Linked DNA regions of Homo sapiens: region 2 is linked to region 1. The links come from fine-mapping of genetic effects on gene expression. A gene starts in region 1. The other region holds a variant in brackets. All regions are shown on one strand. Distances are from middle to middle. Region 1 holds the start of NARF (nuclear prelamin A recognition factor). Region 2 has its middle 22 kb from the start of METRNL.

Region 1 (4,373 bases):
GCCCAGCTAATTTTGTATTTTTAGTAGAGATGGGGTTTATCTATGTTGGTCAGGCTGATCTTGAACTCCTGACCTCAGGTAATCCACCCACCTCGGCCTCCCAAAGTGTTGGGATTACAGGTGTGAGCCACCATGCCTGGCTGTAAAATCACATTCTTGAGAGCCAGGCTCAGGTTATGTATCCAATAAACAGAGACCATAGCTACTAGCTAAGGAGAATTTAAAAACAAGAACTGAATTAGAAGAGAGGCCAGGTGCAGTGGCTCACGCCTGTAATCCCAGCACTTTGGGAGGCTGAGGCAGGAGGATCACTTGAGCCCAGGAGGTCAAGACCAATCTGGGCAACATAGTGGAACTCCATTTCTACCAAAAAATAAAAATAAAAATAAATTAGCTGAGCATGGTGGTGCATACCTGTAGTCCCAGCTACTAGGGAGGCTGAGGCAGGAGAATCACTTGAGCCTCAGAGGTCAAGGCTGCGGTGAGCCATACAGTGAGCCACTGCACTCCAGCCTGGGTGACAGTGAGACCCTGTCTCAAAAGGGGAAAAAAAAAATTAAAAGAAGAAATCCAGTATTACACCACGTTTTCTTTGTTCCCAATGCAGTGTGTTTTGGTGTAGTGTGTTCTGAGAAGACAGGCCTTGTGCCACTGATGGACTGTCTCACACATGTCTTTATTAGCCCCTTCAAGTTTATTTCAGTCTCGGAGACGGAGTCTTACTCTGTTGCCCAGGCTGGAGTGCAGTGGCGCGATCTTGCCTCACTGCAAGTTCCGCCTCCCAGGTTCACGCCTTTCTCCTGGCTCAGCCTCCCGAGTAGCTGGGACTACAGGCGCCCCCCACCACGCCCGGCTAATTTTTTGCATTTTTAGTAGAGATGAGGTTTCACTGTGTTAGCCAGGATAGTCTCAATCTCCTGATCTCATGATCCGCCTGCCTCGGCCTCCCAAAGTTCTGGGATTACAGGCATGAGCCACCACGCCTGGCCTATTTCAGTCTTTTTTTTGGGACAGAGTCTCACTCTGTTGCCCAGGCTGAAGTACAGTGGTACAATCTCAGCTCACTGCAACCTCTGTCTTCCAGGGTCAAGCAATTCTCCTGCCTCAGCCTCCTGAGTAGCTGGGATTACAGGCGTACACCACCATACCTGGATAATTTTTGTATTTTTAGCAGAGATAAGGTTTCACCATGTTGGCCAGGCTGGTCTCAAACTCCTGACCTCAAGTGATCCGTCCACCTCGGCCTCCCAAAGTGCTGGGATTCCAGGCGTGAGCCACCATGCCCGCGTACTTCAGTCTTCTTTAAAGCAGTGATGTGCACGGTGCTGTGAGCCCCCAAAGAGAAAAACAGCAGCAGTAGTTTACTCTGGGCTGATACAAAACTGAAAAATCTACTTGCCTCTCCATTTTCCTGGGCTGGACTCGGTGCATCGGCTGACACATTCTCTTGGTCATCAGTTTTTGTTTTCTTACTACATTCCTTAAAAAAGCAAAGGAACATTATCAATGAACTTTTACTTCGTCTCCCTTAAGAAAATGTGCACATTCTGACCAATGAAGCTCATGTATTTCTATCCTTTCTTTTAGTTTATTTATTTATTTTTTTAGACGGAGTCTCGCTCTCACCCAGGCTGGAGTGCAGGGGCGCAATCTCGGCTCACTGCAGCCTCCACCTCCCGGGTTCAAGCGATTCTCCTGCCTCGGCCTTCTGAGTAGCTGGGATTACAGGTGTGCGCCACCACACCCAGCTAATTTTATATTTTTAGTAGAGACTGGGTTTCGCCATGTTGGCCACGATGGTCTTGAACTGCTGACCTCAGGTGATCCACCCGCCTCGGCCTCCCCTCCCAAGGTGCTGGGATAACAGGCTTGAGCCACCGTGCCTGGCCTTCTATCCTTCTAACCCTTCTAGTGAAACAGGTACTGAAGGACACACACACATCTCTATTGTTTACAATAATAAAAAAGCAGAAGCAACTGTAGCCTTCACCCCACAGGCGAATTCCCCTGGACACAGGTGTACTTAGAATAGGACGCAGCCACCACCGGGGATGAACGACCCATGGAATGTTAGGAAGCCTCCTGCCACGGCGTCACGCGCAGAAGTGCCAGCCACAGAGCAGCATCCACAGGAGCCCATTCCGGCAATAACAGCTACAAAACCCCCCTGCGTGCGCTGCGCGGTTGTTGCCATGGCCTGGAGACAACCGCGGAAGGCGCCGGTCAGCAGCCGTCACCCGCTTCCGCCCCTGCACCGGCTGCTCGGTGACCCTCAGAGGGGCAGGTTCGAAAACGCCTAAAACCCTCTCGAAACGCTTCTGATCATTCCCGCCACGACCGCTGTTTACTCGGACTGTGGTGCGCGGCACGAGAGGCTCGGTCTCCGTGCGTTTCCGCGCTTCGCGGGCGTGGGAAAGATGGACAAGTTCAGGGAGAACCGCGAAGACCGAACCCGCCCTGCAGAGCGCAGCGGACCCCGCGCCGGCCGCCTCCACGCCGAGCGGGCCCAGGGTGCCGAGGCCGGGGGCGCCTTGAAGAGCCCTGAAGCGAGCGAGCGGCGGGCCCGGACCGCCAACCTCGGCCGCCCAGAGCCCCACAGGACAAGCACCAGGCGCGCGCCTCCCCGGCCCGCGGCGCTCACCTTGCGCGTGCAGTGCTCACACTTCATCTGGAGCGCGGCGGGCGGGAGGCCGGGCGCCTCAGCCTCAGGGAAGCACCGGGAGACTGGGACACCACTGCCCGCCGCCCGCGGCCCTTTGTTGTCCTCCCCCGACGCGGCCTCACCCCCAACGGCCGCGCTCGGCCAATGAGAGCACCGGGAGAGGACAAGCCGCACCCCTGGGCCAATAGGATTCCCCACCCTTACGGCTTTGCCTAGGCCAATGACAGTGTCGGGAAGGGGCGGGCCAGGCCCCAGAGCCAATCGGAGCGCGCGGGGCGGACCGCAGGCTCACTCCACGTACGGCGCCGGGGGGACCGGGTCCTTGCGCCGGTTTCCGCTTCTCGTGGGTCCTGCGGCGGCGGCGGCGGCCAAGCGGCGTTCACCAGGGAGTCGGTGAGCGCGCGGACTGTCCCGAGGCCAAGCTGGGGCCGTTCCAGGGTGCTCGGTCCGGTGGTCACGGGGCCTGGAGGCCCCTGGGCCCGCGGAGGCCGCGGCCGGGCTCTGTCAGCCAGCTCGGCGTTGGACACTCGCCTTACTCGCGGCTCCTAACGGGGCGGGCCGGGGGCACAGCCCTCGTCCGCCGCCATTGCCACTTGACGTCGTGTCACGTAGGCTCGGCGGAGTAGCAGCGCGCATGCGCGGCCTGCCTGTCAGTAACCACGTGATGGACCCGGAAGCCCGAGGGCAGATGCTAAATGATGGCCATTTGACATTTGCGTGTGTTCACTATGGATAGTTTTACCAAGTACATTGATTTGGGCCCTTACAGCTTACAAAGTAAAGATAACACTTACTCCTCCAAGAAATTGATTTCAGCTAAGCAAAACATTGATACAGGGCTATAATGGAAGTGTTGGACTCATAAACGTTTTATGAAATCAGTGTGTGTGTATTACAGAAATCAGAAATGAGAAGTAAGAACATGTCTGGGAGAGTGTGACATAAGAAAAATAACTTGTAGGCGTATTTAACAGACAGCAGCAGTTCTCAGGATTCCCCATGTTAGAGCCTTCCTTCCTGTCCTCTGAGAAATGAAAATGAAATCCAAAGACCCCCAACTGACTACACGAACCCCCTACTGGCTAAGGAGATCCCAGGGTTGCCTTGAAGGCAGTTCTCAGCCATGACAGATGGGAGGTGAGACACCTGTTATTAAGGCCAACCCTTGGCTAACTACCATTAGGTTTTCTTGGCTAAGAGCTTAACGGAAACCAGCGCTTTCGAAAGACTCCACCGCTGATAACAACTCTCTCATTTGCAGTTTCGGCCCAATTGACCAGTATTCCTTACTGATAAGAGACACTGACCATGGAGTGGTTCTGGTGAGATGACATGACCCTCGTGAAGGGGCCTGAAGCTTCATTGTGTTTGTGTATGTTTCTCTCTTCAAAAATATTCATGACTTCTCCTGTAGCTTGATAAATATGTATATTTACACACTGCACCTCATAGATTCCTGTTCCCTTTGCCCCTCCCTGGAAGTGTCTGTTTCTGGCTTCTGGCCAGAGGCAGTGCTTCCCTGTCTGTCAGAATGGCCACCCTGCAGGCTGAAACCCTTTATGAGAAGTAAAGCTCTCCTTTCCAGATTTATGAATCTCATCATTCTTCAGCTTGCCATTGCCCATCGGGTTCTTCCTGCCCACTGCACAGACAAAAAGTCAATTCATCAAGATTGCAGCAGGCCGGGAAAAGAGTTTAATTGACACCTGGC
Region 2 (4,375 bases), 640 kb before region 1:
CGACCCCAGCTCCCTCTCATCAAGAATGGGGAAACTGAGGCATAGACAGGCCACCCATAGCGCCCCAGGCAGAGGCCACCAAGACACGGCCGCTTTGCTGTACGTGGGGCTTTTCAGGCGAGGCCGGGTGCGTGCAGGAGATCAGAGGGGCGGAGCCCCGAGGAGACGGAGATCCAGAGGGGCGGGGCCCCGAGGAGACGGAGATCCAGAGGGGCGGGGCGCCGAGGAGACGGGGATCCAGAGGGGCGGGGCGCCGAGGAGACCGAGATCAGAGGGGCGGGGCGCCGAGGAGACGAGATCCAGAGGGGCGGGGCCCCGAGGAGACGGAACTCCAGAGGGGTGGGGCGCCGAGGAGACCGAGATCAGAGGGGTGGGGCGCCGAGGAGACGGAGATCCAGAGGGGCGGGGCGCCGAGGAGACTGGAATCAGAGGGGCGGGGCCCCGAGGAGAGGAGATCAGAGGGGCGGGGCGCCGAGGAGACGGGGATCAGAGGGGTGGGGCGCCGAGGAGACGGAGATCCAGAGGGGCGGGGCGCCGAGGAGACGAGATCCAGAGGGGCGGGGCCCCGAGGAGACAGGGATCCAGAGGGGCGGGGCGCCGAGGAGACGAGATCCAGAGGGGCGGGGCCCTGAGGAGACGAGATCCAGAGGGGCGGGGCCCCGAGGAGACGGACATCAGAGGGGCAGGGCCCTGAGGCGATACCATGGCCCATGGGGTCAGTGCCACAGTCCTCCCCAGGCTTCCTTGCGTGACAGCCCTGGCCCGAGGCATCCAACCCATGGGCTTCCATCTTCACAGCCAGAGGGAGGAATGAGCAGGGCTGGTCTGCAGCAGGACAGGTGGATCCTGGGCCAGGGCGTTAAACTTAGCAACTGTTCCAGGGCCCCCTGGAGCAAGCGACCTTCCCATAGCAACCTCTCAGACCCCTGGTGCTCGGTTTTGGGAAGCAGGTGGCACATCTGTGACAACAAGGTCCAGCAGCCACCACCCAGGCCCATCTTCACACCTGGGATCCCAGCCTCTGCCCAGCCTCATGAGCGAAGCTCACACCACGCAGCAGCTGTCTTGGGCCACCCAAGGAGCCACAGCTGCCCTGGGAGCTGTGGCTGAGTTGAGGGCCATCATGCATGGGGCCGACAGGCCACGGGGCCCCCCTGGGAAGCACCCACCTGCTCATTTCTTTTCTTTCTTTTTTTTTTTTTCTTGCTCTATCACCCAGGCTGGAGTGCGGTGGTGCAATCTCAGCTCACTGCAAGCCCCGCCTCCTGGGTTCACACCATTCTCCTGCCTCAGCCTCCCAAGCAGCTGGGACTACAGGTGCCCGCCACCAGGCCCGTCTAATTTCTTTTTGTATTTTTAGTAGAGACGGGGTTTCACCATGTTAGCCAGGATGGTCTCGATCTCCTGACCTCATGATCTGCCTGCCTCGGCCTCCCAAAGTGGTGGAATTACAGGCGTGAGCCACCGTGTCGGGCCCCACCGGCTCATTTCTAACCTTCAGTATCGGCCACAGCAGCGTTTGAGGTGGAATTCTACATTTTTATGGTTTCTCAGTAAAGCAATGCTTCCTGCCCTTGCTTTGGGCTGAGCCCCTGGGGTTTCAGGGCGTCTGGGGCCTGTGTTGGGACTGGGCAGGGGTCCACACTATCTTCATCTGAAGTGTTCTCGCCAGTGGACGTCAGCCTGACCTCCCATCCCTCCTGCCGCCCTGCCACCAAGCTCCTTCCCTCTGCAGCTGGGGCCACTCCCCCTTCCTACTGCCCTGAAGCTCTTCCTGCTGGACAGGCACCAGGCCATGGTGGGGAGTGTCCCTGGACGAGGTATCCCAGATGCACCCCAGTCGTGGCTGCATCTGGGCCCTCCCTGGAAGTTGCCCATTCTCTGTCCTCGGTGTCCTCCGCCCTCAGCAAACACCACAGGACTCTCCCAGACAGCAACCCACGTGCAGCAGCCATGACCGGCACTTCCCAGCACTGCCGGGCCACTGCCTGGAGTACACACCTGGCCCCAAGGGGCTGTTCCGTGGCAAGGA[G/A]CACGCCCTGGGAGGCGCCAGCCGTTGGGAAATCAGACAGAGTCTGCTCCACCGGGAAAGCCACACGGAGCTCAGCTGGACTCAGGCTCGGGGGAGGAAGCTCAGGCGCCTGATCGCTGGGGCAAAGCAGCTGGAGGCCGGAGAGAAGGGCAGGCCCTGACAGCAGGCAAGGGTGGCCTGCACCCACCAGGCTGGTCTCCTCACCGGACTGAGGGCCTCTCTTCCCCAGGCACCCACCAGGCTGGTCTCACAGGACTGAGGCCCTCTCTTCCCCAGGCACCCACCAGGCTGGTCTCACCAGACTGAGGCCCTCTCTTCCCCAGGTCCCTGGCCGGCCTCCATGTCCTGGTCCCGGGCCGGCCTCCATGTCCTCCACCACTCAGCCTCAGTGGATCACTGGACAGACTGCAGGGAGTCTTTGCCAGCCTTGGGGTTTTTCCTCCCCAGGTTCCAGTTCTCCCACAAATGCCCTCTGCTCACCTCTGAGAAGTACAGGAAGAGCCGTGCTCAGAGGTCCCACTGGAGACCCCTCCAAGGCACGGCAGGTGCCAGCAACAGCAATGCCAGGGCACCCTGCCCAGAAGCAGAGCCAAGTGAGCAAGGCTGGGGGCTCTGGAGGTCCAGACAAGACCCTCTGGGGGCAGGAAAGTCAAGTGTCCTGGTCGAGGTCACACAGTGGCTGGGACCAAGGACCCCTCTCCACGACCCTGGGAAGCACAGCTGCCCGTGCAGAAGTCCAGACCCTGGTGGAGCTCGGCTCGGCCCCACGGCACGGGAGAGGCAGAAGCTCCAGCAGTGAGTTCTCCCTGAGCTGCAGCTGCAGCGAGGCATCCCCGGCACAGCCCCACGGCTCCAGGTGGAACCGGGAGGAGGAGGAGCCTGGGGACCACTCAAGAGTAGCCGGGCGGGGAGCACAGCCCCTGCAGCGTCTCCTGGGCAGAAGCAGGTGTGGTCAGGACGAAGGAAGCACCTGGTCTGTGGCCCAGACAGTGTCTCCTTCTATCCACATCCGGAGCGACACTGAGGTGGGCTGAACAGAGGCTCCGGTGGACAGAGACCCGTAGGCACCGCCCAGCCTGCCCCTGCTCAAGCTGCCCGGGTCGCTTCTTACAGAGCCCCACTGTGCTGCACTCACATCATCTCACAGGTCCTGCCACCCTTGTCCACCTGCCCACAGACCCGCCACCCCCCTCACGGTCCTGCCAACCTTGTCCCCCCTCCCACAGACCCGCCACCCCCCTCACGGTCCTGCCACCCTTGTCCCCCTCCCACAGACCCACCACCCCCCTCACGGTCCTGCCAACCTTGTCCCCCCGCCCACAGACCCGCCACCCCCCTCACGGTCCTGCCAACCTTGTCCCCCTCCCACAGACCCACCACCCCCCTCACGGTCCTGCCAACCTTGTCCCCCCGCCCACAGACCCGCCACACCCCCTGTCCGGCCCAGGGAAGTGCAGTGCCTATGGGTGGGACTGGCAGACCCGCCGGCCGACACCCAACCTGGCAGCCGCTGTGGCCAGAGACCAGTTATCTACCATCAAGAATGTGCCCTTGACTATTTTTATGTCATGTGTGTTTTCTTTCTTGCCTCAGTTTTTAGTAAAGTTCCTTGTTGGGCATTTTAGTCCAGCTCAGCAGTGCTAAAAGGGGAAAGAAAGGGGCGTTGGGCTGTTTCTGGGCGGAGAGTGCCGGGCAGAGTGGCTCCCGGCCCCTCACCCTTCCCTGGGCCCTCCACCCCTCCCGCAGCGCCCCTCCCCCTCACCGGAGCCCCCCGGGTGTATTTTTGTTTCTTTGTTTTTTAGCATATTTTTCATCTTGCCTCTGATCAAACTGATGGCTAGAAAAGTATGTGGCTTGGTAAGCAAAATTCTTCTGAAGAAATTCCAGAGCCCCCGGCCGCCGTGACCTCACCGCCCCGACACCAGCCAAGCCTCCGCTGTCTTTATAAATCACGGCCCGCCCGGCTGGCAGCACACAGTGGCCCAGTGTTGACTCCGGATTCCTCACGTTCCCTGGCGTCCCCCGTGGGGCCCCTGCCCCGGCGGTCGGGGAAGCAGAGCGGGCAGGCTGGGGGTCCCTGGGCGGCCATCCCCTCCCTGCTGGGTGAGCCGGCGTCCTCCCTGCAGGTCTGCGTCCCCACGTCCCGCCCCTGCCTTCCGCCCCTCAGAACCCCTGCCATAGCCGCACTGCCACGACCTCCTGCTGTTAGTGGCCGCCCCCACCTCCGGAGCCCGACCCACTCTGCTCCGAGGCTGCTGGGATGGGCACCCACCTGTAACCAAGTGTGAATAGCAGAGCCGGTGCTGGCTGCAGGCCAGACACCAGCAGGGCTGATCAGGCCCC

The links. PIP is the estimated chance that this variant, and not a neighbour inherited with it, causes the effect. A credible set is the group of variants that fine-mapping cannot tell apart.
Region 2: its variant is the best candidate, but not a certain one, in a credible set for the expression of NARF in ileum (GTEx, PIP 0.61).

The regions. Positions count from the first base shown.
Region 1 is chr17:82,457,099-82,461,471 of GRCh38, reverse strand. It overlaps NARF (nuclear prelamin A recognition factor), which reads right to left and starts at 2,731. Exons shown (of 11, transcript NM_012336.4): 1 at 2,642-2,731; 2 at 1,400-1,480. The coding sequence starts at 2,668. NARF-AS2 (NARF antisense RNA 2) reads left to right here and starts at 2,953. Exons shown (of 3, transcript NR_184099.1): 1 at 2,953-3,799; 2 at 3,924-4,034. RefSeq lists enhancers at 1,977-2,809, 3,243-3,392 and a silencer at 2,393-3,212.
Region 2 is chr17:83,099,687-83,104,061 of GRCh38, reverse strand. No RefSeq gene overlaps it. Among named protein-coding and RNA genes, the nearest start is that of METRNL, 22 kb to the right of the region's middle. The variant G/A (reference allele first, on the strand shown) is at 2,033.